Linked DNA regions of Homo sapiens: regions 1 and 3 are each reported to be linked to region 2. Evidence: microRNA targets listed by miRTarBase, many of them from high-throughput screens and not tested one by one. Region 2 holds a microRNA gene; each other region holds the end of a gene's coding sequence.

The links. The annotated mature microRNA hsa-miR-3691-3p reads ACCAAGUCUGCGUCAUCCUCUC and lies in region 2 at 6,688-6,709, shown strand. An mRNA with a match to its seed (bases 2 to 7 or 8) in the 3' UTR can be bound and repressed. Matches are read on the target gene's strand: a 7mer-m8 pairs with bases 2 to 8, a 7mer-A1 pairs with bases 2 to 7 and ends in A, and an 8mer does both.
Region 1: the mRNA of CORO2A is a reported target of hsa-miR-3691-3p. Seed matches in the 3' UTR shown: 7mer-m8 at 4,325-4,331.
Region 3: the mRNA of CTTN is a reported target of hsa-miR-3691-3p. Seed matches in the 3' UTR shown: 7mer-m8 at 5,698-5,704.

What each region holds. Positions count from the first base shown.
Region 1 is chr9:98,119,813-98,125,416 of GRCh38, forward strand. It overlaps CORO2A (coronin 2A), which reads right to left. Exons shown (of 12, transcript NM_052820.4): 12 at 1,163-5,093. The coding sequence ends at 4,962. Among named protein-coding and RNA genes, the nearest start is that of TRIM14, 3.4 kb to the left of the region's middle.
Region 2 is chr6:5,144,003-5,154,954 of GRCh38, reverse strand. It overlaps MIR3691 (microRNA 3691), which reads left to right and starts at 6,633; the gene lies at 6,633-6,722. All of the region lies in intron 2 of LYRM4 (LYR motif containing 4), which reads left to right. The region is part of intron 3 of LYRM4-AS1 (LYRM4 antisense RNA 1); the gene reads right to left.
Region 3 is chr11:70,431,136-70,442,087 of GRCh38, reverse strand. It overlaps CTTN (cortactin), which reads right to left. Exons shown (of 18, transcript NM_005231.4): 15 at 10,808-10,897; 16 at 8,810-8,987; 17 at 8,370-8,441; 18 at 5,513-7,062. The coding sequence ends at 6,926. Among named protein-coding and RNA genes, the nearest start is that of CTTN, 38 kb to the right of the region's middle.

The DNA.
Region 1 (5,604 bases), not on the chromosome of region 2:
TTTTTTTTTTTTTTTTTTTTGGAGACGGAGTCTCGGTCTGTCGCCCAGGCTGGAGTGCAGTGGCGCCATCTCTGCTCACTGCAAGCTCCGCCTCCCGGGTTCACGCCATTCTCCTGCTTCAGCCTCCCGAGTAGCTGGAACTACAGGCGCCCGCCACCACGCCCGGCTAATTTTTTGTATTTTTAGTAGAAAAGGGGTTTCACTGTTTTAGCCAGGATGGTCTCGATCTCCTGACCCCGTGATCTGCCCGCCTCGGCCTCCCAAAGTGCTGGGATTACAGGCGTGATCCACCGCGCCCGGCCAGATCGTTTTAAAATAATAATACTTGGTTACAAGAATTAATACAGGTGGCTTCAGTCCAAAAGTTGAACAGGCAGTTGCTGGGCAGATGTCCTCATATCATGGCTTTTGTGCAAGGTTGTGGTTCTTTGTGCAAGGTTGCAGTTTGGTGGAATCTTTTGCAATAATAGTTCCTGTTACCAGGCAAATCGTTGATGAGGGCCCCCCACTTCATGGCCTCCCAGCACCATTTAGTTTGTTTGAGACAGGATCTCGCTCTGTTGCCCAGGCTGGAGTGCAATAGTGCGATCATAGCTCACTGCAGCCTCTAACTCCTGGGCTCAAGTGATCTTCCCACCTCATCTCTGGAGTAGCTGGGACTACAGGAGCACCATTTAGTTTGGTTTTGATGTAAGTGACTCTGTTTTGGTACTGACAACTTTCACACACACACCACCACCCCAAATTCCAGTTGCCCCCCCAGGCTCAAGTCTAGACTTCCACTTATAAAGCCCTCAGCTCTTTCTTAAGATCCTTGGTCTCCGCCCTGCCTATGCTCCACCCTGTGCTTTTTCAAGACTGGGGGACGTGCAGTTTACCCTGCTTGGAACATTCTTCTTCCCAAATGCCCTTTGCCCTGAGTATTCCAACTTACTCTGCAGGTTTCTACCTTACTATCTTTTCCTCCAGGAAGCCTTCCCTCCTTCTCCTTCCAGAACAGCCTATGCTTTCCCTATCCTGGCCCTCCCCATTCCCGCAGCCATGACTGAAAACTGGAGAGGGCAAAGACTGTCTGTTCTGCCTGTTTTCCAGCTTGGTGTCTGACTCCAAGAGTAGATAGTTAATTGGTATTTGTGGAACAAATCAAGAAAAGGAAAGCTCCTTGTAGTAAAATGGCCAGATGTTTATTATTTTGTTACATTATTTCCATTGCATATTCCACATCTATTTATTTTCACTTTTATTTATTATCATTATTTTTCACAAAGGTACAAGGAATTTCAGAAACAACATTAAAACAATCATTCAAACTGTTTCAGGCACGGTTTCAATTAAAAGCATAGATTTGATTTCTGACTTCCTGTTTCCTTCTATGATACAATCTCAAGTTTTGTTTCAGGAAGCACAATTATTGTAGCGTTAAGGTGGATACCTGCCAAAGCTCATCTCCTAGTGCTGTCCTCATTCTCAGAAAGTTCCTGAGTCAACAGAAAGGGGACGCCCAGGGTATGGAATAAGGAGATGAGAGCATGCTCTGCCAACTGGCTGGGACCTGAATGTGCTAGGCAAGTTCCACTACATCAGCTCAAGAACATAAACAAAAATGTAATTTAAAAAACAGATGGTTTAAAAAAATATCTGATAAAAATTACCTATCCCTCTCCCTTGCTGTGAAATAATTTAAATAATTTATTCTAGATGTAAAAATAATAATACAAAAAAGTTTGTTCAAAGACACCTGTGTCCTGTTTGTTAAGTGTGCAGTCTGGGTCCCTTGGGGTGGAGGGAGCTGGCCAAGGAATGGCATTGTGCAGAGGCATACCGGGAAGCTCTCTGGATGCAACCCCACCTCTACCGCTTGGCAGTCAATGACCTTGGCATGATGTTTCTTCACTTCTCTGAGGCTAGGTCTTTGATTCTGAACATGGGGACTGTAATGCCTGCCTGACCTGTGTTAGAACAGCATGTGTCACTGAGTGGAGGTGGGAGGAATTTGTAAACTGTGAAGTGCTAGCCACACAGGTGGGAAAGGTAAGCCTATCCTGTAGAGCTCTGCTGCCCTGACAATGCCTGGGATTTGGCCTTCTTTTCTGGAGCACACTAAGGCAATCTTGGCTAGTGCATCAGACGGGAGTGAGCCCCAGTGACTGAGTAAATGGAGAATAAGACAAGGAACACGAGCATCCGGCCTGTGCAGACATACAAGCAGAATAAACCACAGCTGGGTAAGGGGCAAACAGGGGCACTGAACCCCCATCGTGCTGCAGCTGCGGTTCCCAGAGATGTTGAGGGAGGGCTTGGGGCAACACTTCTGGACTTTTAAGGAGCCACCAGGCAGGACTTAAGAGATCTGGGTTGAGTCCCAGCTCCTGTCTGGAGCTTGCTGTCCTCTTCATCTTTATTGCAAATAGGTACACATGCAGTCTTCCATCTTCACTGTACTGCAGATCACCTGTGGAGCTTATATGACCATACAGGCCCTACTCTGGAGATTCAGCTTCAGTTGGTCTGGAATGTGGCATGGGCATCTGTATTTCCTGCACGCTCCCAAGGGAATTCTAATGTACACAGCTTGGGTTGAAACCTACCAGACTAGGTGGCCTCCTGCAGTCCCCACCTCAGCTCCAGAATCTAATCGCCCTGTGCAATGGAGATCATCTGCCCCTCCTTGGTAAGGAGGGACCAATTTCACTTCTAATCATTCCCAGTCTCTTGGTGGACTATTGTATTGACCACTGAACTTTAGAGTAGGGCTCGGAACACAGATTCACTAAGGAGGGACAAAGAAAAGCTTTCAGGCTAAAAGGGAACTTTGGGACCATCTGGTACTACTTCTTTACCTCGTATAGTCATTTCAGAAGACCTCCTGGTTAGGTGGCCAGAGGCTCTGCTGGCATGTCTCCAGTGATGGGGGCCCCCTACCTCCTGGGGGACTCTTCTGTTAACTAGGGCTGAAATCTGCCCACATCATCCTGCAGGAGGCAGGCTGTGTACCTGAGGGCCTTGGTGGTGGCAGTCAGCAGTCATGGGCACAGTTCTGAAGTCTGCGTCCCTCCATAAGGGACAGCATCTATCCATATCAGGCTGATTCTGGTTGGAAAGGTTGGTTTTGACCACCTGCCTGTGTTGTAGAATTGGGTTGAATGCCTCTGACCCCTTGCCAGTGTCCGTTAGTTTCTGTAGCAAACCCAGATCACCCCACAGGTAGTTTTCTCTTAGGTCAAGGTTTCAGGTGGCAGATCCTGCAGAGAGCAGCTTGTTCCAGGGTACCCCTGGTTCAGATGAAGAAACTGAGACCAGAGAGGGCAGGACTTGCAAGAGGTCACTGAGTAAGCTGGGGCACAGCTGAGGCCAGAAGCAACAGATTTCTACTCTTTGGGCTGAGAACTGCATCAGACCCAAAAGAGCAAAAAGACAGACCCAGAAAAGCAGGATCTCAGCCCAGCCCTGCCATGAAACAAATATCACTTGCCTCTCTCTAGGCCTTAGTTTCCCCAGCTGTAAAATGAGGAACTTGGGTCAAATCACTAGCTTTCAAACTTCTAAAAAAATTTTTTTTTCCTAGCAGAATTGTTTTTCATACTAGCCCAACATATAAAATAGAAGGGAGCTGTCTGGTTGGAATACAGTGTGGGGAAGGGAGACACAGCCTTCCTGCTTAGTCTTCCCCTATTCTCTCTCTCTTTTTTTTTTTTTTTTTGGAGATGGAGTCTCGCTCTGTCACCCAGGCTGCAGTGCAGTCCGCAATCGTGGCTCATAGCAACCTCCACCTCCCAGGTTCAAGCAATTCTCCTATCTCAGCCTCCCGAATAGCAGGGACTACAGACGCTCACCACCACGGCTGGCCAACTTTTTTTTTTTGAGACGGAGTCTCACTCTGTCACCCAGGCTGGAGTGAAGTGGCATGATCTTGGTTCACTGCAACCTCCGCCTCCCAGGCTCAAGCGATTCTCCTGCCTCAGCCTCCCAAATAGCTGGGATTACAGGCATGCACCACCATGCCTGGTTAATTTTTTATTTTTAGTGGAGACGGGGTTTCACCATGTTGGCCAGGCTGGTCTTGAACTCCTGACCTCAGAAGATCCGCCCAGCTTGGCCTCCCAAAGTTCTGGGATTATAGGCGTGAACCACCACGCCCTGCCTAATTTTTGTATTTTTAGTAGAGACGGGGTTTCACCATGTTGGCCAGGCTGGTTTCTTTCTTTTTTTTTTTTTTTTGAGACAGACTTTTGCTCTTATTGCCCAGGTTAGAGTGCAGTGGCACAATCTCAGCTCACTGCAACCCCCGCCTTCCGGTTTCAAGCAATTCTCCTGCCTCAGCCTCCCAAGTCGCTGGAATTACAGGCGCCTGCCACCACGCCCAGCTAATTTTTTTGTATTTTTAGTAGAGATGGGGTTTCACCATGTTGGTCAGGCTGGTCTCGAACTGCTGACCTCGTGATCCACCAGCCTCGGCCTCCCAACATGCTGGAATTACAGGCGTGAGCCACTGCGCCTGGTGAGACTGGTTTCAAACTCCCGACCTCAAGCAATCCGCCCACCTCAGCCTCCCAGAGTGCTGGGATTACAGGCATGAGCCACTGCGTCTGGCCCAGTCTTCCCCTATTCTCTGGACCACAGTTTGAAAATCACAGACAGGTCAACCTAGATCCTTCCAGCTCTAGTTTTCTACTGTGTTCTTTCCTCTTGAGAAGTTACAGCTCATCATGGGCCCTTAATAACAGAATTCAACAGAAGGCATCATCTGAAAACAAAGTCAATTCAGAAACTGTTGTTGCAAGAAGGCAAACAGAAAAACGGCACCATGTCCCACTGGAATCTCTTTCAGCGATGGAGAGTTTTGTTTTCTGGTAAAAAATATAGAAATAGTGGTTGTCCTTGAGGGGACTTGTGGTTTGGTTCTAAACCTCCCCATGGAGCCGAGTGGTGTCCCTGAGGGTGAGGAGGGCAGAGGTCTCTGCTCAGAGCTGCTCTGAGCCCATCCGCAAGTTTTTGATCTCCAGTTCCAACTGTTTGGCCTGGACCTCTCGCTGGGTCAACAGCTCCCGGAGCCTTCGGATCTCCTCCTGTTGCCGGTAGAACATCTGCAGCAACTGGGGAAGAAAGATCGGAAGGCAGGATCACCATGGTGTCAGGACACCAGCTGAAAGCTAAACCACTATCCCTCTTTGACTCAGAAAGGTGGAGGCGGTCACATTAACATGGCTGAGGCCTGATGGGGCTGTCACTGCATAGATCTTTTACAAACACCTTGTTTACTTCACCCAATAAATGAAATTCAAGAAGACTGGAATGTTTCAGATGTATTTTGCTTCCATAGATCCTCCATGAAATAGAGGAAAGGATGCCTGGCTCTGAAGTCTGGGGATTGGTGTTTTCGCCACCACTGAACTGTGTGACCTTGGGCAAGTTACTTACCCACTCTGAGCTTCCATTCCTTCCTCTGGAAAATGGGGTCAGAAAACTGCCCTCTGTGCAGAATGGGTGTTAGATATTGAGTGATGCCCTAAGGGCCTCGTTATCCCACTGGAACGTTGTGACACCCCTATAAGGGTGGCAGTGCTAGTGTCCCCACCGTACCACCGTGGAAACGGAAGCTTAGAG
Region 2 (10,952 bases):
TATTAAAAGTCCCAGGCCTGGGGTGAGGAGACCTGAACCCTGATGCCCCCCTCTGACACTGTGTAATTTGGGTGAAGTTACTGCACCTTTGTGAATCCGCCTTTCTTTTTTATTTTTATTTATTCATTTATTTTTTGAGACGGAGTCTCGCTCTGTCGCCCAGGCTGGAGTGCAGTGGCGCGATCCCGGCTCACTGCAAGCTCCGCCTCCCGGGTTCACGCCATTCTCCTGCCTCAGCCTCCCGAGTAGCTGGGACTACAGGCGCGTGACACCACGCCCGGCTAATTCTTTTGTGTGTTTTTAGTACAGACAGGGTTTCACAGTGTTCGTCAGGATGGTCTCGATCTCCTGACCTCATGATCTGCCCACCTTGGCCTCCCAAAGTCCTGGGATTACAGGCTTGAGCCACCGCGCCCGGCCGAATCCGCCTTTCTTTTTAATCTGTATGAGGTGTTGGGTTGTCTTCTGATGTTTCCATCTGTGTCCTGTGTGATCGTAGATACTGCATGCCACTCTCTGTCCAGCACGTGATGCCCTTTGCAACCTCCTTTCTCACCCACCCTGGGGCTTGGGAGCTGGAGATGGGGGAATAGGGGTGGTCAGTGAAATATTAAAAATCAGACTCCTATAGACACAGTTTGCAGGTGTTATATGGAGTTCCTTCTACTGTTTCATTCTACTGCATTACATTTTTATGTTAACTTAATAGGCTAATATTTTATGAACTTGTAAGATTGAATATATGGAATGAAATCAATGTTTCTGATAATTACTTGATGGGGTGGGGAGTTTCAGGAGAAAGTCATTTAAAACCTCCAGACTGATATTGATTAAAATTAGTGGCTTAAAGATTTAGAATATCTAATTTATAGGGTTTTTTTCTTGGTTGACTCTATAACTTAGGTAAAAAAATGTTTCCGTAGCTTTTATGATAACATTTAGCAGGTAATTTTCTTTACTAGATGTAGGGAAGAGCCAGCAATTTACAATCAGAGCATTCCATATATCCCTGTTTAGGGCGTTTCAGGGTTTATTGCTGCAATTTAGCATTTTTATCTGGGATGTTCAACTTCTAAGGGACGGGCTCTCTGTTTGCTGTTTTAAAATTATTAGAGTCTTTCATTGTATCTGTCTGTATTCACAGCATATATGGTCATTTCATTTGAGTGTTCATGAACAGCCCTCAATATATCAGTGATTACTTTATGTGTCGAGCACCGTACAACAGTGGTTGCCAGTTCTGACTACACATCAGGATGTATTTTTGAAGACTTACAGAGGTGATTTTGTTGAGCATCACTGTTGAAAACCACAGGTTTTCCAAGAGTGTCCGTGTGTATTTCACATGGCTTTACTCGTCAGGAGGTACTGGTGATTGCCTCTTTCACAAAAGAGGAAACTGAGGCTCTGGAAGGTTCTGTGAGTTGCCCCCGGTCACACCGAACAGCAGCACTTCATCAAGTTAGTTTCCAGATGTCCAGCTTCTCTCTGCCCAGCTGGGCAGGCACAAGAGACTTGCTGTGTTATGACCTGGTGTCTTAGTTTTGTTTAAGATTAGCAAGGGCGCCAGGTGTGGTGGTTCACACTTGTAATCCCAGCACTTTTGGAGGCTGAGGTGGGCGGGTCACTTGAGGTCAGGAGTTTGACAGCAACCTGGCCACCATGGCAAAACACCATCTCTCCTAAAATATAAAAATTAGCCAGGCGTGTTGGTGCACACCTGTAATCCCAGCTACTCAGGAGGCTGAGGCAGGAGAATTGCTGGAACCCAGGAGGCGAGGCAGAGCTGAGATCACACGACTGCACTCCAGCCTGAACGACAGAACGAGACCCTCTCTCACACAAAAAAAATAATAATAAGATTACCAATGGTTCAACAGAAACAAAACCAACAGCCTAGTGTATTGTGACAGTCCTGGGACACAGAGGCAGAATTAGGTACGTACTGCCTTCATTTAAGGAACCTGCAAGCCCAGCGGCCTTAAGTATGCTACTAAGGATATAGTACTAGTTGTCACATAAATAAAATTCTAAATCCTGTCATTAAATAAGCCACCCTTATGCCTTTCTCATCTGGCAGCAAGTTTGTCAGCACAGGGCAGTGGGTAAAGAGTTGCCGTCTGCTGCGTGTTTCCATTTGCCCCGTGACCTAGCCTGGAATTCCTACCAGCCAACAACAGAGGAGGCCCAAGAGGAAGGCTTTCCCCAGAAACACGCAGTCCCATCCCCTGGAAACAGTTCCATGAGCACATTAGCTTAGCTGATTATGAGAGTAGCTAGGCATCAGCTCAGGCACTGAGTAAAGCAGACCTTTGTAATGGGGCTGAGGGAGGAAGCGTGTACAACAGAGGGGAACAGCCAGGCCGGAGACAGACACGCAGCTGGGGCTGCCTCACTTCTCCGTTTGCCTCCACCAGCCATGCCTTCTGACTGGACATTTTCACCAAAGAAGATACGATGGGGTATAGTTTTTAAAAAAATATTAGAAGGATGGCAGATTATTAAAAGCCAGCTCTCGCCCCCTATTTAATCTAGTACGTCATGCCGGCACTGGAGGTAGTACATGTGTGTCATTCATTGTTTGTGGGTGTTTCCCCGAGTGACATAGTTGTCGCTTAGTTGCCGCTTTCCTAGGAAATGCTTTTGGCATCACATACTTGCCTGCAGCTGATCAGGGAAGCAGCTTGGCAGGGCAGGAGAAACACAGAGCTGAGTCTGCCGCTCTCACTGGCGTGCTAACCATGGGCAAGCTGCTTAGCTTCTCAGCGTCATGTTGCTCCTCATCTATAGAATGAAGTTGGGTCAGTGATTTTTCTCTAAGGTCCTTTCCAGTTCCCATACTTAGTGGTTCCAGTGATACATATTGACAAGAATATGGTATCATTCTTTTATTCATTCATCAAATATGCGTGAATCACCCATGTCTGGGAGCTTGCTAGATGCTGTGAGCAATTGCAGCAGTGAATCCCACAAAGATCCTGCTTTCCTGGAGCCTGTCATCCAGCCAGGGAGACAAAATGGGGGCACACAGGATTCTCCCAGAAAGCAAAATGGGAAAAATACTGGTAGAAAAGAACAAGGAAAAACTTATCTTCTATTTGTTAAGCCTCCCTCTGTGCCCTAAAGACTCTATTTGATAATTTATGGACTTTTAATTTAATTATGACAGTAATCCGGTGAGGTGGATTTTATTATCCCACTTTATAGATAAGGAATCAAACATTCAGAGAATAAATAATCTGCCCCTAGTCATGCAGCTAGTAAATTGAGCCAGGATTTCAGAACAAGCCTTTCTGCTTTGAAAGCCCATCCCTTCTCCATTAGAACATGCTGCCTCCTGATAAAATGCTTGGCGAATTGATACAGGAGATAGCATATGCCACCGAGGGCAGGATAAGCATTTTCTGGTAGAGGAGCCGTTTGCTCAAGGACCGAGAAGTGGGTGGAATTGGCACGTGTGACTGGGGAGAGGATTTCCTGGAGGCAACAACTGTGAAGGAGTCGGGGCAAACCCAGTGAAAGGGAGATGGGCCAGGCAGAGACTTCAGAAATTATTTAAAAGGCATTTTGGAGGCCGGGTGCGGTGGCTCATGCCTGTAATCCCAGCACTGTGGGAGGCTGAGGCAGGCAGATCACGAGGTCAACAGATAGAGACCATCCTGGCCAACATGGTGAAAACCCGTCTCTACTAAAAATACAAAAAATTAGCTGGGCATGGTGGCACGCATCTGTAGTCCCAGCTACTCAGGAGGCTGAGGCAGGAGGATCCCTTGAACCCAGGAGGCGGAGGTTGCAGTGAGCCAAGATCGTGCCACTGCAATCCAGCCTAGTGACAGAGCAAGACTCCGTTGCAAAAAAAAAAAAAAAAAATTCAAAACAAACAAAAGGCATTTTGGAGCCCCTGAAGATTTGGAGTAAGAGGTTAAATAAGTAAAGGTCACTTCTAGCCATGCCATGAGAGTACTAGTGTAGACACTGATTAAATAAGCTGATAGGGGCTTGAATTGAAGATTAAAAGTCAGGAAGGGAGAAAAGAAGACATGGAAGAGAATGCTATACCATTCTCATAAAGGCTGTGTCATCAGAAATAGCAAACTCAAACTCAGGAACAGGAGCCAACCTTAGAAACACATTGAGGACTCTGATTTTAGTGACTCTAAGCTGCAAGAGATTGGTTCAGCTGTAGTTCTACAACTCAAGATAGTAGTCAGAGCCTGAGCATGCAGCGGTTACACGCTTGCAGGGGAGAGCTGGAGGCTCGATTGAGAATTAGTAAATGCATGACACTCTGCTGCTCACAGAACATGTGCACATTTGCTATCTCAGATGCTTTTCAAGGTGGCCAAAGGAGAGACCACAAAGAAAGAATAATTATGTTAATAGCTAACAATTAGTGAGGGCCTACTGTGTACTAGGCACTGTGCTCAGGATTTTGCATACCTCAGACCTCACCTCCCTATGAGGTGTCATTATTATATCCCATTTGCATAGAAAGTACCTGAAACCAGGGTATCCATGGTCACAGAACTAATACATGGCCAAGCTGGGACTTGAACCCAGGTCTGATGGCCTAAGGTCCCCAGCCTTGGTTAAACAGAGAAGGAAAGGAGGTGCAACAATAGGGGAAAATCAGAATCCAAAAGAAGAAAAAATTGCAAGGAGGGCAGATATGGTTGGTTTCTCTGTTTATTCGTTTGCCATTAGAAACTTTGAGAATAAAGGTCCAGAATGTAGTTGATTAAAATAATGTACACCTGGTTCACCACTGTTACTGATCACCTGCCTTCTACAAAGCTTACGTATTGAGCTTTTATGGGACAGATGGGCTGCGGTGCATTACTGCCTCTTAATACCCTGCTTTACTGTAGCCTGAAACAAGGGTGGCTGTCTGAATGTCAGCGAGGACTTGGGGATGCCAGAGGCATGCTGCTGTGTTCATCTGCTTCTGTGCATAAAGATTTAACATTTGACGTTTGCCCTTTGTTACATTTATCCTAGAGTGTCTTAACATTATTTTAAAGTGATGGATGTTTTGCTCGTAGGAAATCATTCAGAGGTGTAACAAACGTAGTACCATGATGAACTAGTAAGACGACATGTTCTGGGAATGGCTTGCACCTGCCTGTTGTGCATATGTGTGTCCATGTGTGGACAGGCATGCTTTTAAGTGGAATTGTGTATCTGATGTTTACGTATCTAAATAATGTATATATAATTTGGTCCAGATTTTCTATTACCTCATAGTTTTATTATTCCAATGAGAACTTTATAAGAAGCCCTCTGATATCCTCATCTCCACAGTAGTCAGGGACTTCAGGGTTCCTCTTCCCACCCCCACCCCCAGAAGACATACCAAGATTTTCAGATTAATGCTTCCCCTAATTCTAGAGTATTTTGGAGAATATCTCTCTGGAGAAGCAATAAGGATCAGTGGTTTGAGCTACGACTTTGAAAGCAGACATGTAAAGAGGTTTGAATCCCAGCTTTACGACATGCTATCTGACCTTGGTTAACCACTGAAAATCTCCCTAGCCTCAGTTTCAGTGTCTGAGATAATGAGCCTGACACCATCCTTGATATCTGTGTCCTGGGGACCTGGAGGAATTAATGAGCTGATGCCATAAAATACCGATCCTGGGTTGAAGGGCCTCTCCTGTGAGGTCTTTCTGTTGCAGTGCGTCTTTGTTAGCAGGCTTTTCCCACGTGTCGGGGCTTCTTTCAGGCCCTCATTTTAGTGTTATCACCACATTAGTGCCTATTTCACTTATTTTTGAAAACCTGAAAATATCATACATACTGATGGAAATTTCATTGAATATTAATGAACACTCAGAACTGTACCTGCAACAGAAAGCGAAATTGGCTAAATATTACTCATCCAATCATTTATCTGAAAGATGGTGTCATTTTCCAATCCTAAAAATATAATAATTAATGTGAAATTTCAGGTTTAAAGTACAGTTTTAAAATATCAAGCAAGCATCATGTCAAAAATGAAATTTTATTAAAGGAGCTATTCTAGACGATTAAGAAATGAAAACTTAGAGTTCTAGGGGAAAAATTCAGAACCACGTTTAATTTTATACTTGGAAGCGCGCTACAAATGACAAGGTAATTTTTATATGTATATTTATAGATTTAATTAGCAGTTATTCCATTATATCTTTCATATAACTATAAATGGAAAATGATTTCAGACAAGAGGCTCTCATCTTCAAGAATTATTGTTGGTAAAGTTATGGGAGAGCTGATTTCTCAGTCACTATAAGCAGAGAGAGAGAGAGAGAGAGAGGTGTGTGTGTGTAAAGGTCATTACCTGTCACCTAATATGAATTCTTTCATTAAAAAATACTTTCTATAACTTTTCTCATTTTCTCATCCATGTTTTGCACTTGAGACTATTTAGAAGGCACCATGACTTGTTCAAGGCGTATACCCAGCCCAGCTCAGGATTACGATACAGAGTTCTAACTCTGCCCCCTCAGCCCAGCTCAGGATTACGATTCAGAATTCTAACTCTCCCCACACAGCACGGGAAGTCCTGCATACCCTGCTGATCTGTGGGTGTCACATAGCCTTGAGGCTCATAAAGGTCTTTGCTTCTCCTTCCTGCTTTTACGTTTCAGTGAATATTGAGGCACTGGGTAGTGGATGATGGAGACTCGGTACCCACTGCTGAGGGTGGGGACCAAGTCTGCGTCATCCTCTCCTCAGTGCCTCAAACGGTCTGGGAGCCAATGTTCAACAAACGAGCATGCGGGTGAGTAAAACACAACCAGCTGTAAGACGTGCTGTTCAAAAGGGCGGGCTGGGAGGGTGGCCGGGACACCAGTCACGGATGTCTTCTGTGAGCAAGAGCTCTTTCATCTGGGACCTGGTGATGAGTAAGGTGACGTGAAGGGAGAGTGGGGGAGGGCAGGTGGCCTGGGGAGTGCTAACGAGCTTGGTGTGTTCTGGAACTGAAAGAAGACAGAGATTGTTTTCCCGCTCCATGTGGAGAGAACCAGTTGCCCACTAATTTACAAAAGGAAAGTCGGACAGTAATCTCTCATCAGCGTGGCTATCAATGAGACCTGGAGCTTCCAGGAAAATTTGGCTTAATAAGTACCATACTGTTACTTCCTCGGGAATATTAAAAAGGAAGGAGCGATGAGACAGAAGGGCCTAATTCACCCTGCCGTGGACCACGTCTGACTTGGCCTGCTAACAAAGCATGTTTAGGCAGTAGGGAGAGAACCGAGGGGAGATGGACGTCTCTACATGGAAATATTTTCTGAATGTGAATTTTAGTATCCCTGTTTCCTGTCTTCCTTCAAAGATGAAAAGGAATCCATGTATAAAACAGGTAGTCACATGAGCATATGTAAAGTTTGGTTAAGCAAATTCAAGGACTTTTTCTACTTACCTAGGGCCAGTATATTCTGTGGACATTGATAACCCATAGTTTCAACTGTAACCTCACATTGATCCCCAGTTTTCAGAGAAAGAGGACACCATCTACTTCTGGTCACTGGCATTTTAGGTGAAATCCTGCAGTGATTGTTTACTGGTAGCCTAATTAGGTACGTTATCCATTATTTAACCCAAAATCCAGGTTAAAATATGACATCAGTGACTTTAGCTAGACCATAACTACACACGTTTACTTCCTGGAGTCATTAAACTGCTTAAAGAAAACAAAATCCCAGCACACCCTTGTTTTGTTAAGGTAACAAAATGAGCTCGTATCAAACATAAATACAGGTTTAAATTACTGTAAAATTTTTTTGTGGACTCAAACACAAACATCACAGCAAAGCTTACCTGTGACCCAATTAGGATCATCATGAAAACATAAATCCCAGTTCTACTCAAGTAATACCAATGGCCTGGTACCAATGGCTTCCAGCAGGCCACTGGGGTTTGACTGCCAACTAGGAAAAGCCCCTGCCTCTGGGGGATAGATGATGGGGAAATCATTCCATCCATCTCAGTGCTGAGCTCTCACATGCTCTTCTGCTTTTCTGTAAATTGACCTAAAATGGCCATCTTTGATGGTCTCTCACTTTCCCTCTAAATCCCTGATGTGAGAATGTATTGGAATTATTTCATGTAACAGTGTGTCTGCCCACAGACCGGCCTCCTGGCTCCAGCTTAGCAGTGTCCAACAGTAAAAATAGAAAAGCCCCTGAGTCTTGTCTTCTTTTGAGAGGAAAGAACCCTTTTGCAGAAGGCCCAGGAACCCCCTCCTCTAGCCACTTTGGCCAGAGTTGTGGTATGCAATTATTCCTAAGCTGTTCACTGGACAGGTAGCTGGGCCCCACCACAACTGCCTAACGTCAAGCAAGATTGATGCCTGGGGGCTGTGCTGGGAAGAGGCCCGCTTCAGGGGGAAATTGGGGCTGTGTTGAGAAGGAAGGAGGGTAGCTGTGGAGTGGGCCACTGAGTGGGGCCTGCGTTTCACAAGCATTCCAGGTCCTGCCTGGGGGTATAAATCCTGGCTCTCCCTTTTCCAGCTCTATGGACTGCACAAAAGTATAATACTATCTAACTTCTCGGCATTTCTGTTTTTTCACCAATAAAAAAAATGAAGGTAACAATACCCCCTCAGAAGATAACATGCGAGCAAGATGGAAGCACAGACCTGGCACAGGCCCATTCTTTACTCTGAGTCAAGTCTAGTCTCCTTAGGGACAGGGCATCAATAAGGGACCCCTCAGCACCTTGCACGATTCATTTAGTTCTCAGGAATTCATTTGCTAGGACTGAATACGGGAAACATGCTACTAAACTGCCCCTGAACTCACAGGCTTGTGATGTGTGGTGGATGAGACACAGCCCGTGCTGAGGCAGGCAGGTCTGAATCCAGTGCCAGAAGCACCATGTGCCATGAGGTGGCATTCGAATATTTGGAGCAATGAAGCGATCTCATTGAATGTATATATATGCTAGAGGAATTGCAATCATGAGAAAAATTAATTGCAGAGTTGATCGTAGAGGCATAGTGTCCAGGCAGAAACCTAATCCAAGCAAGAGATCATTTGACGGCTGAGGGAAGAGAGAGCCAAGGGGAATGGAGTGGAATGGAATGGAATGCAGGAACTCTAGAGGGGATTTAAAGGCTGAATATGCTGGTTTGCGGGCTTGAGTTAGGAGCCCACCTCTAGCAGTCAATATTACTAGAGCATTGGTGGTGAAGCCGTGGGTGTAAATAAGACCACGTGAAGTGGGCGTATATTAAAGACATATTGGTGACCTTTCTGATGTTTTCTACCATTTCATATTAATAGGCATGAGGATCGAAAATAGGAAATGATTTTTCTTTTCTCCTCCCTGGCAGCCTTCTCTGCTGTGATGTTTTTTCCTCATAAGGCTGGGGTCCTATTGCTTTCCCTTCTGATGAAGCTTTTTTATTACTTGGTGGGTAGAGGGCCTTAGGTGTGGCAGAGAAATTCCGCAGCCTCGCCCTCGCCGTCATAGTGATGAAGAGCGTTGACTCCGGAGTCACCAAGGGAAATTAAGCACATGTTTTATTAATCTTTATGAACCTCAGTTTCCTCTCCTGCAAAATGAGAACAATACTGGTGCCGACTTCGCAGCACTGTTTGCAGCGTGAGGGCGATAAGGCACTTACACAGGCGCGTGCCCCCCACATGGAAATGCCTGGAGATGCTGCCGGCTCCTCCACTCACCGAAACTGCACTTTCTCTCCTTTGTTCTAAATGAGAAACCAGGTGTGGGGAGCAAATGGGAGAAAGGGGCAGGAGAAGCTTGCCTCAGATTCCAACTCATATGACCTGTCAGTGACTAAAGACGGAATGCCAACACATGGATTGTGTGTGTGAAATGCCAGGTTGGTGTTTTCCACAGGGATGTGCCCGTTGTTCTCTGCTTTCTGTGGAATTCTCTTCCAGCGCCAGGCCTGGAGATGGGGCCTGCCCTTTTACCTCTCAAATATGTTCCCAGGGAAGAGTGTGTCCTTCTCCGGGAGCCACCCCATCACACTGACTCTCACTTTGGGCTCATTGCTAGAAACTCTGTGGCCTGCGCCTGCTTCCCATGTCGCGTCAAAGCGTCTCAGCACAGACCTAAAGGAGACCTCAGAGGTCACCCAGCGTGGCCTCGCAGAAACACCTGCGGGAAGGGATTACGGAGGTTTGCAGGGAAGGCCGGGCAGCCCGGGAGTGAGCGCCGCACTGCAGCTCCCAGACACATGCAGCTCCTGCTCCCAGGCAGGAACAAAGTGATTTCCCAGCTCCTGGGGCCATGGGTAGCTAACTGATTAAATACCCGGTTTGGAAAATTCACCTGACGTATTTCTTTTTTTTTTTTTTTTTTTTTTTTTTTTTTTGAGACGGAGTCTCGCTGTGTCGCCCAGGCTGGAGTGCAGTGGCGTGATCTCGGCTCACCTCCCAGGTTCACGCCATTCTCCTGCCTCAGCCTCCCAAGTAGCTGGGACTGCGGGCGCCCACCGCCATGCCCGGCTAATTTTTTGTGTTTTTAGTAGAGACGGGGATTCACCATGTTAGCCAGGATGGTCTCGATCTCCTGAGCTTGTGATCTGCCCGCCTCAGCCTCCCAAAGTGCTGGAATTACAGGCTTCAGCCACCGCACCCGGCCTCACCTGACATATTTCTTACACGTAAGCCACTTCTTTTTCTTGTCCAAACTGAGGCTAGCCCTCACCCAAGACTTGCCTGTATCTCAGTGCAGGTAGCTGAGCAAGGCACAGCCGCCAGGAGGAAGTCGGGGAACAGCAGCCGGAGCCTGGGGAAGCCCTGCACAAGTTGGCCTTGAGGAAACCACCTGACAGACGTTTGCTCTTCCTCACAGAGCTGGTGAGCATTCTGACTATGTGGTCACATCAGATCAGATCGCTCTCACCTCTCTAAGCATTTCTTTTTCTGGAGTATGAAGCAGCTATTCAGGGAGGAAAGCAATTTGATGTCAGGGGCTTCTTTGAGCCTTGGGAA
Region 3 (10,952 bases), not on the chromosome of region 2:
GAGGGGCTCAATTTCCCCACATCCTCGCCAACTCTTGTGACCATCTTCTTCATGGTAGTCACCCTCATGGGTGTGAGATGTTACTGCAATGTCTTGGCTCTGTCCCCCAGGCTGGAGTGGGGTGATACAATCATAGCTCACAGCAGCCTTGACCTCCTGGGCTCAAGCAATCCTCCTGCCTCAGCCTCCTGAGTAGCTGGGACTTCAAGCGGGTCCCACCACACTCAGCTAATTTTTAATTTTTTGTAGAAACAAAGTCTCCCTATGTTGCCCAGGCTGGTTTCAAACTTCTGGGCTCCAGTGATCCTCCTGCCTCAGCCTCCCAAATAGCTGGGATTACAGGTGTGAGCTGCCCTGCCCAGCCTCCATGTGGTTTTTGTTGTTGTTTTTTTTTTTTTTTTTTTTTTAGACGGAGTCTTGCTCTGTTGCCCAGGCTGGAGTGCAGTGGCACGATCTCGGCTCACTGCAAGCTCCACCTCCTGGGTTCACGCCATTCTCCTGCCTCAGCCTCCTGAGTAGCTGGGACTACAGGCGCCCGCCACCATGCCCGGCTAATTTTTTTGTATTTTTAGTAGAGACGTGGTTTCACCGTGTTTGCCAGGATGGTCTCGATCTCCTGAACTCGTGATCCGCCCGCCTTGGCCTCCCAAAGTGCTGGGATTAGAGGCGTGAGCCGCCGTGCCCAGCCTCCATGTGGTTTTGATTTGCATTTCACTAATGATGGGTGATGCTGGGAATCCTTTCTCCTGCTCGTTTTCCATCTGTGTATCTTCTTTGAGACATCTATTCAAATCCTTTGCCCGTTTTTAAATGCTTTGGGTTTGTTGTTTAGCTGTAGTTCCTTAAATATTCTGGACATTACCCCCTTATCAGACGTATGACTTGCAAATATTTCTTCCCATTCTCTAGGTTCCCTTTTCATTGTTATGTCCTTCAATGCTGTTTTTTAAATGACAATCAACTTACCTTTTTTTTTTTTTTTTTTTTTTTGAGATGGAGTCCTGCTCTGTCACTCAGGCTGGAGTGCAGTGGCGTGATCTCGGCTCACTGTAACCTCCGCCTCCCAGGTTCAAGCGATTCTCGTGCCTCAGCCTCCCAAGTAGCTGAGACTATAGGCACGTGCCACCACGCCTGGCTAATTTTTGTATTTTTAGTAGAGACAGGTTTTGCCATGTTGGCCAGGCTGGTCTCAAACTCCTGACCTCAAGTGATCCGCTCGCCTCGGCTTCCCAAAGTGCTGGGATTACAGGCGTGAGTCACCACGCTCGGCCCAACTTAGCTATTTTTCCTTTCGTTGTCTGTGCTTTTGGTTGCGTATCTAAGAAATCATTGCCAAATCATGAATGTCATGAAGCTTTCCCCGTTTACTTCTAAGAGTTTTATAGATTTAGGTCTTGTGTTTAGGTCTTTAATCCATTTTCAGTTAATTTTTCTGTCTGGTGAAAGGTAAGGGACCAACATCACTCTTTCGCATGTGAATTTCACTTTCCCAGTGCCATGTGCTGAAAAGATAATCTCCCAATTTGAAGGCCAGCTGATTAGAAACATTAATTCCATCTGCTACCTAATTCTCCTTGGCCATGCGGGGTAACATCATCACAGGTTCTGGGGATTAGGATCTAGACATCTTTGGGAGGCCAGGATTCTGCCCACCAGAGGGAGATTGGGCCTGCAGGGACTCACGTGCATCTCATTCACACAACCTACTCAGGAGAACACAACTGACCTTTGAACAAGGGTGTGAACTGTGAGCGTCCACTTATACGCATATTTTTTCAATCAAACATATAAAAAATACAGTATTCGGGCTGGGCATAGTGGTTTATACTTGTAATCCCAGCACTTCCGGAGGCTGAGGCAGGAGGATGGCTTGAGGCCAGGAGTTCAAGACCAGCCTGGGTAACATAGTGAGATGCCGTCTCTACAAAGACCTAAAAAAAAAAAATTAGCCAGGCATGGCAGGTGTGCACCTGTGGTCCCAGCTACTCAGAAGGCTGAGGTAGGAAATTGCTTGAGTGAGGGAGGTGGAAGCTGCTGTGAGCTATGATGGTGTCACTCCACTGCACTCCAGCCTGAGTGACAGGGACCCTGTCTCAAAAACAACAAACAATATAGTATTCACAGAATGCAAAGCCTGCACACACAAGGCCAACTTTTCATAGATGTGGGTTCTGCAGGGGACTGGGGGACTTGAGTATGTGCAGATTTGGGTACAGGAGGGAGGTCCTGGGCCCAATCCCCTGCAGGTACCGAGGGACAGCTCTATTCCTAGGTAATAGCAGGAGGTGTAATTCACAGAAAATATGAACAAACATTAAATCCAGAGATAGCTAAGTTGGGCCGAGCTGACAGCTCACAAATGACAACGGAGCTGTCTCAAATGGTTTTTAATCGAAGAAGCACTATTATAACAATGACAGTAGGTAGGAAAAAAAAGCACCTTATCACACAACATAGAATTCTTTGACTATGTTGCTGTCTGTGTGCATTTTCACAATCATCATCAAAAGCAGAGCTCGTCTTCCCATGGGAGGTCAAACAGGTCAGAAGAAATAATCAGAGGGAAAATGGGAGAAAAGAAACAACAGAATTCAAAACACAGGACTGAGGGGCCGGGTGCGGTGACTCACACCTGTAATTCCAGCACTTTGGGAGGCTGAGGCAGGTAGATCACTTGAGGCCAGGAGTTCAAGACCAGCCTGGCCAACACAGTGAAACCCCATCTTAACTAAAAATACAAAAATTAGCCAGGCATGATGGCAGGTGCCTGTAATCCCAGCTACTCAGGAGGCTGAGGCAGGAGAATTGCTTGAACTTGGGAGGCGGAGGCTTCAGTGACCTCAGATTGTGCCACTGCACTCCAGCCTGGGCAACAGAGTGAGACTCCGTCTCAAACCCCAAAACCAAAAAACATGGGACTGAGATGAGAAAAGGGGAGAATCCTCATGTTTCAGGCAAAACAAGTAAAAATTATTAAAATCTATTGTTACCTTTTGTTGTTCAGATATCTTCAGTGTGTTCCATCAGACTGTGGAGGTGTATCCTGGCAATACATCTCAAATTCAAGCAGGTAAATGGATCTAGCAGGCATCTGACTAGAAAGAGGGGTTAATTCTTTTATCCTCACTTTCAGATGAAGAAATTGGAGCTGAAGGTCAGCAAGGCAGGTATCAAAAACCGTGCCCACTCCACGCAGGCCCTGGCGTGGAGGGACGCAACAGGGAGAGCTTTCCTCTGAGAGGCCCCTGGCCAGGCCCGAGCCGTGTTCTCAGATCTCCTTGTTCTCCTTTCAGAACTTCCTCTTCTCCTTGGTTAGAATTAAACACAGTGGTGGGGGCCGGGCGCGGTGGCTTCGCGCCTGTAATCCCAGCACTTTGTAAGGCTGAGGCAGGCTGATCACCTGAGGTCAGGAGTTTGAGACCAGCCTGGCCAACATGGCGAAACTGTCTCTACTAAAAATACAAAAATTAGCCAGGCGTGGTGGTGCACACCTGTAGTCCCAGCTACTCGGGAGGCTGAGGCAGAACTGCTTGAACCTGGCAGGTGGAGGTTGCAGTGAGCTGAGATTGTGCCATTGCACTCCAGCCTGGGCAACAGAGCAAGACTCTGTCTCAAAAAGAATAAATTGATTAAAAAAATAAAAATCAGCACAGTGGTGGAATCAGATTTATTGTGTCAGCTTCCCCAGTGCTGAGCCATCTCTCTTACTCAACATCTCCCCTCCAAGGCCCAGCACACAGTATGTGCACAGTTAATACCATGTCAGCCACTCTGAACATCTTGGGTTGAAGAAGCATTCGCCAGCATATCTTCCAGGAGCAAAGTAAGCATTTTCACCCCGACAAAGCACTCTCCATGCTGTGCCCACATCTGAGCGCCCAGAGTGGCCAGCAGTGGCTCCAGTGGCTCTTGGAGGTGCCTGTGTGCCGACGGCTCCCTATGTGCCACAAAATCGTTTTCCATGTCTGGGCACCAAGAGAGAAAAGCACGTCCATGTCCTGCCCTCCCTCCTCCAGCAGGCTGAGAGCAAGCTGCTCCCAGGCAAGCATGCCCCTAGGCTGTTCTTCAGGCCAGAGGGGACTTGGGGAGTGAATCCAACTTTGAGACAGAAGGCACGGTGAGCTGACATTAAAACGACCACATCTACGCTGGGCACGGTGGCTCATCCCTGTAATCCCAGCACTTCGGGGGGCCGAGGCAGGTAGATCACTTGAGGTCAGAAGTTCTAGACCAGCCTGGGCAACATGGTGAAACCACGTCCCTACTAAAAATACAAAAAGTAGCCAGGTGTGGTGGCATGCACCTGTAGTCCCAGCTACTTGGGAGGCTGAGGTGGGAGGATTGCTTGAGCCCTGGGTGCACAGGTTGCAGGAGCGGAGATCACGCCACTGTACTCCAGCCTGGGCGAAAGAGCAAGACCCTTTCTCAAGAAACAGAAACAAAAAACCCCAACCACATCTAAAAAGAAAGCGGCTAAGATTCAGGTGGTTGGCTCCAGGCACTCAAGCTGCCAGGCCACGCTTGGCCACCAATAGAACAGAAACACAGACCCACTCAAGATGTGTCCCGCTCCTGTTGAGCCCCTGCCATGCTCATCCGCAGGCGGCACAGGCACACACCGACTGGGCAGACAGTGGGCCAGCGGGGGCCCTTTCTGCATGGCCCCCTCCCTTCGTCACACCCTGTCCTCCAGCCCCCTGACCCCGTCTGCCCACCCTGGCTGGGACTTTCCCCTGGTTCACAAGCCTTCATGCCTCATTTCTTCAGGACTCAGCTCCCTGCAGGTGGCTGCAATCTCACCCAGCAGACAGGCCCTGTGTGGGACGGGGCTCGCCGTTAGGGCTGCAACCCTGTGATGCAGAACCCACAGCAGCCCGGTTGTGGCAGGAGGGCGGGGGCACTCTCACGTTAGGCTCCTGTGGGCAGAGCTGGCAGAGGCACTGTTTCCTAAGCCAGAGGCAGGTGTGGGACAGCCCAAGGGAGGAGGCAGTGCTCCGTCACCACCCAGGTTGGAAGGGGTAGCAGGCATGTCGTGTAGCCGAAAGCTCCCTGGGAGCACCTGATGGGCAGAAGTGTGAGCCGGAACCCAGCTCCCCAGCACCCCCGGCTCCCGAGGGCACACCTGCTCCCTCAGTGCCACTGTTCCCCTTAGCCTTTAACTTCTGGTGCCCCTGAGCAAAACGAGACTGGGAGCAAAATCCCCCTCAGGATTTGAGAACTGTAATTCAGAAATGACTTTTAAGCACAGAGTGTTTTATTTTGCTTGGAACCTTTGTGCAAAAAACTGAATCATCTGCCAGAGTAAACACATTTCAGTTCATAAGCAGCACCTTTGAATGAACACTGAAAAGGGAACGTACGGTTCGGTCTAAAGCCAGAACAGAACGCGTGAGACGCACTGGACGGCAGGAGAGCCTCCGCCAGCCCAGGTCCGGGGCGCAGGACACCGAGAGTGTCGACGCAGCTTCCACTGCAGAACGGAGTGACCACAGACCAAAGCAAATCACGCAAGTGGATCAAAAAATGTTTATTCTGAATTCTTTAATTTAAAAAAATCATACCTATGAGGTGTGCTACAGGAATTCAGATACAATAAGTTGCATATAAAACCCGACCTCATTGCTCATTGTGGTAAAGCAAGGATGATGAGAAAATGCACCTCAGGAGCAAAAACACGCTTCACGGGCACTCCGGGACCCAAGTCCCGAGACATTTCCACGTGACCTTCTGGAAAGACACACCGCCCACCTGACTGCACGACGGGACTGGTCCAGCCTCCCGGCTCCTCAGGAAGGAGATGAGTTTCCTACAAAGTGAGTGGCCACAAATGCCAGGACAGCGGTGTCCTGGAGCTGTGGGGGGACCTTGGGGAAGAACACACACTCATCTGCACTTCACACTTCTAGCCTTCAACTGATCAAACTACTGAAATTGAACATGATATTTTGGCAAAAATACTACACCCCCATTGACAGGAGGAGGGTTCCTGGCGGCTCACAGCAGAGCAGGCACTGCCTTCCTTCCCAAGGCCGAGAGGCCATGCTGTGACATGGCACACACACCGCCCCAGGCTGCCCGGTGGCCCAGGGACCATATGGGTGACAGTTAAGACATCAGCCTTTGTGAAAAGCCAAGCCCGACGCAGACCTCAACTGCACTGTGCGTCCCAATCCAGAGACCCGCGGGGCAGGGGAGGATTTCAAGGACTCAGTGACACTGCCCGGCGGGGACAGGAGAGGCTCCCAGCAGCCCTCCCGGTGACCTGGGCATCAGGGGATGGGTAGAGATGAGGACAAGCCGGAGTGGGCACAGGAAAAAAACCAGGGTCTCTGCTAGAAGTCACCTGATCCTGCGGGCTGTCACGGTATGACATAGGCAGATTTCCCATCTGACATGGCAGCTCCTGTGCTCTGGGTGACTTAGCTCCGGGTTAACTTCCATCAGGCCCAGTCCTCTCCTCCCCAGCAGTGAGACTCTAGAGGAAGCCCCTCGTCTGGGACAGTCCTTCCTGCCTACCCGCCACAGGGCCGACCTGAGGCCTCGTGCTTGTCCTGGGAGGTCCCGACTGCACTTGATGGGCACGAGGGCAACACGAACACAAGAGAATGCGAGCTCCCTGAAGCTGCCGCGTGACAGTCAATTTGGCAAAAAAGAAAAAAAAAACCATCAATGCATAAAACCAATTACCAAAGTCCTCCTAAGGAATGTGATTACAATATATTAGCAAATTCTGTGGCATAAACATTTTCAAAAGCATCAGCAAAAGTATTAAATATAAAAGCAATGTGTATATTCCCCTCCCCACCTTCAAAAAAAAAAAAAAAAAAAAAAAAACAGAAAAAACCCAAAACCACCCAAGAACCAAAGAAGGCCTGATCTGTAGTGTGAGGATCCAGGGCGCAGCTCCGGGGGGGGGCTGGGGGCCCTACTGCCGCAGCTCCACATAGTTGGCTGGGAAGAGCCCGTACCGGCCCTTGCACACCCCGCGCCACCAGCCGTCGTCAATCATCTCGATGTTGGTGATGATGTCATCAGGGTCAAATGAGATCTCATCATCGCCCGCTGGGGAAGAGAACACAGAGAAAGATGCTGAAGTGCAAGCGTTTCCTGGTCTGCCAGAAAAAAAGCACAACCCAGAGCAAGCTCCCAGGCAGCCTGCTCAGAGATGCCCCCTGCAGAGATGCGGACCACCGCGGAGGCTCCTGCTGCCTCTCCCATGCCACCAAGGCCAGGATTTGTGAACATGAACCGAGAGAGTACAAAGAGGCACAGAGCCCTTCACACAAGCACCAACCCCACCCGGACCCCTTCCTCAGGAGCAGGTTTCCACCACATAACTCCAGCCCCGCCTGCCCTCCCTTCCCCTCTCTCTGGCAGACGTGTCTGTGGAGGGGGTGGGGAGATGGGCTGCGGAGGCCGCAGTGGAAGGACAGCCAGGGGACACCCGGAGAGAAGCCCGAGGTGATGGCTGAAATGGGAATGGAGGGCAAAAGCCACGGTGATGAGAATCCACGCACAGGTGCCGAGATGCCACAGACACACCCACATGCGTGTACGCAAATGCACGTGTGCAAAAGGCACTGAACGGGGACGGCCAGCGCTCACTTATGGTAGAATGCCAGCTTCCGCGCTGATGGAAAGTTGCAAACGGGAAGCACTCAAGAGGCAGAGGCCGGGGGTTCTGAGGGGAATCCCACGCCACCCGTAAGATGCTTGTCAACTGCAGAGGGGTGGTGGTGACTTTGTGGACCAGGTGGTGGCTGAGACAGAGGGACAAGTGGATGCTATGCGGCCCAGCAGAGAGCCCCACCGCATGGTCTCCAAGACCTCACCGCCACCAGAGCACAGCTCAGCCTGGCCCTGAGGGAACACGGGGCGGGCGGCTGAGGCCAGCCCAGGAGCTGAGGCTGCTCTTAAACTGCCAAGGCCGCAAAGGGAACTCAGGGGAACGTGCAGGCCACACGGGAGCTGGCGGCCGGGGCAGGACAGGCAGGAATGGGGTCTCGAACATCAAGGCATCTGTGCGGCCCCCTCACCTGGAGGGTGGGGTGTCCCTGTGGGACAGCATCTTTGATCTTGGGAAACACGCTGGAGTCTTTGGGGGTGGCAGCACCCCTGCAGCTCTCCAAGGGTTCAGAGAATACTAAAGATAACAGGGGGTGTGTGCGTGTGTGTGCAGAGATGGAATCCGGGTAGGGAACATGGGAGTTCTTGGCACTATACCTGCAACTTTTCTATATCTCTGAAATTATCTCAACATAAATTACTTCTAAAACTAACAACGCTAGAGAAGTGAATTCTCAGAAAACAAGCAGAGGCAGGCGCAGCTGCCTGGGTCTCCCCTCCAAGTGCTTTTGCAGGCCGCTCACCAGCCTGGTAGTCGTACAGGGCGACGGCTGTGATCCCCAGATCGTTCTCGTACTCATCGTAGGTGCTGTCCTCTAAAAGAAAGCCATGACAGAGCTGAACAATACAAAGTCCCACACAGGTTCCCAGCCTTCTCAAGTTTTAGACGACACTTCCTAAGATTTTGTCTCAAGGACACAGGGCGGCAGCTGAAACCCTCCCTTCCTCTGCCCCTGCCCACCCGTCCCCAGCACAATGGGGATCTTCCTGGGACCCAGCACAGGAGCCGATGCCCCAAATGTGCCTAGAGCACTTCCCTCCAGGGACAAGAAGACCCTATAGCAAGCAAGCAAAGGCGTGTCAGTGGGAAACCCACGCTCCTCGCAACGACGCCACAGGTCGAGCAGGATGTCCCGGGAGCTCCCTGCCCTGGGCAGGGCGCTGCAGCGTGGGGCCCCAGTACCTGCGGGATAGTGGCCCGGGGCCTCTGCGCTTTCATAGACAGCCTCTGTGGCATAGGCCAGGCCCTGCTGGCTGCTGGCCTCTCGGTAGTCAGCGGCCTCCATGCTGTACACGGGCTCCGGCTCCGTCCCACTCACAGGGCCTCTGTAGCTCAGCTCTGCCTTGAAGGAAGCCGCATCCTGGGGAAGGGTCACACGCACATGGCACGGGGCCCATGCTGGCTTCTAGAGAGCAGTAGCTGTACTGCCACAGCCAGCAGAAACCCACGGGCCATCTAATTCTCAGTCCCAGCCAGGACTGAGAAAACAGACGCGGTATAGGAAGGCCAGGCCTGCCGGTGTGTTCACCATGGTGGTGAGTGCCCACATGCCATTTCCTTCCCGATGATGACCCGGTCCTCACCACCGACACTCCAGTCCTGCAATAACCACGCCCACACAGCAGGTTAGGAGACACGCCCCTGCCCACACTGTTGCCTGGGGGTAGAGCCTGTCTTTGTTGGGTTAATTTGGCTGATTTCTTTTTTTAGGCCTCATCTCCAAGGCCACACAAGGCACCCTTGGGCCGAGCGGCCACCCTCCTGCCTGTGCTGCTCGACCCTGGCCCTGCCTGACAGCGGCTTCACCACGTGGCTCCAGAGCAGCTGAGCCTACAGACAGGGCATCGCCAAAGAATCACATTCAACTACAAAGGTGCGCAGTGGAACACCTCTCTATCTATAACCACTGCCGCTTCGGAGCCCCAGCGAAAATTCTGAACTGCTTATCACCGACAGTGGCTTTAATCAATGTTTCTGACCAGGGTCCACCTGATGTCACCGGCAGTGACTGAAAGAAAGCAATGCCGACAGCTCAGAACCGCGCACCCAGGAGATCTGGGAAGAGCCAGTGGTGGAGAGCTGCTAGCCAGGGAGAGTAATCGGGCAGGGAGAGCGACTCCACCCTCAGCACAGGCACCAGGAACCACACAAGGGCTGAACTGCACGGGAGGGGCAGGGTCGGAGCTTCCTTGAGGCAGATGGCGCTGGCTGCCAAGGGGAGGGACTAGAGGGGGAGGCCGGTTCCTGACAAGCTGCAAGGCCTCACTTACCACATCCCCCCAGGGCCCGGCAGGGTAAAGGCAGCAGGCAGCAGCGTAGCCAAGGAGGGACAGTCGGGTGGTGACAAGGCCACGGCCATCGAGGCCCAGATCCCAGACCCGGCCTGTCTCCAGGGCTCTCTCTGGGCTCCTGAACTACCATGGTCTGGAGTGTGACCCCTGTAACTGACTGGCTCCTGGGCGAGCAGAGATGAATGCATAGACCAGGATGATGGCCATGGGATGGAGAAAGGGCAAGGGCTGGGGACAGGAGAGGTGGTTACAGGTAGAGGGTGTGGTTAGCGCAGAGGTGCTGGCGGGGAGCAGGAGACCCAAAGTCAGGGATGGGCGGGGCATCGGCAGGCGGCTCCGTAACTCAGGGATGGGGACGGAACACTGGGGGACCCATGAGAGGGGGTCAGCAGCACAGGGAGGGGCCGGACAGCATGTCTGCAGCCACACTCATGAGGGGCTGCAAGGCTGGAGAGCTGAATGGGGCAGGCATAGAAGGCAGATTGTGCGGGAGGCAGGGGCTCAGTGATGAAGGAGGGCAGCACTGCCATTAGGGAGTGAGGCGGCGTCCTGCACAGCAGAGAGCAAGTGGGGTGAAGACACCCCCATCTGATTATCTGATAGCAGGTGACTACAGCAGGGACTGCAGTGACAGTGGCCAGACTACAACAGGCTGCAGAGGGGTGAAAGGATGGCATGTGGGCCTGCACAGCTATCCCCTGACAGCACTGAGGCATGTCACCCACCCCCCAGGCGCTCCTGGCCCACCCCTCTCCGGGCGTGGAATGCAGCGATGCCCTCTACACCCACGCCACACTGCCTGCCTGCAAGGGCTTCCTCCACTCCACAAACAGGACCTGGGCTCTGGCAGTAAGTCACTCACGCTCATTCAAACACCAAAGACACCAACCTCATAGACGGGGCTCGAGGGCAGCCTCTCCTCGGTTGGCTGAGGTGCGGGCGACACAGGGGGCGTTTGCGTTTTGGCTCTGGCTTGCTCCTGTGATTGAAAACAAACAGCAATCAGAATGCTGCCATGACACTCTGCACTGTCA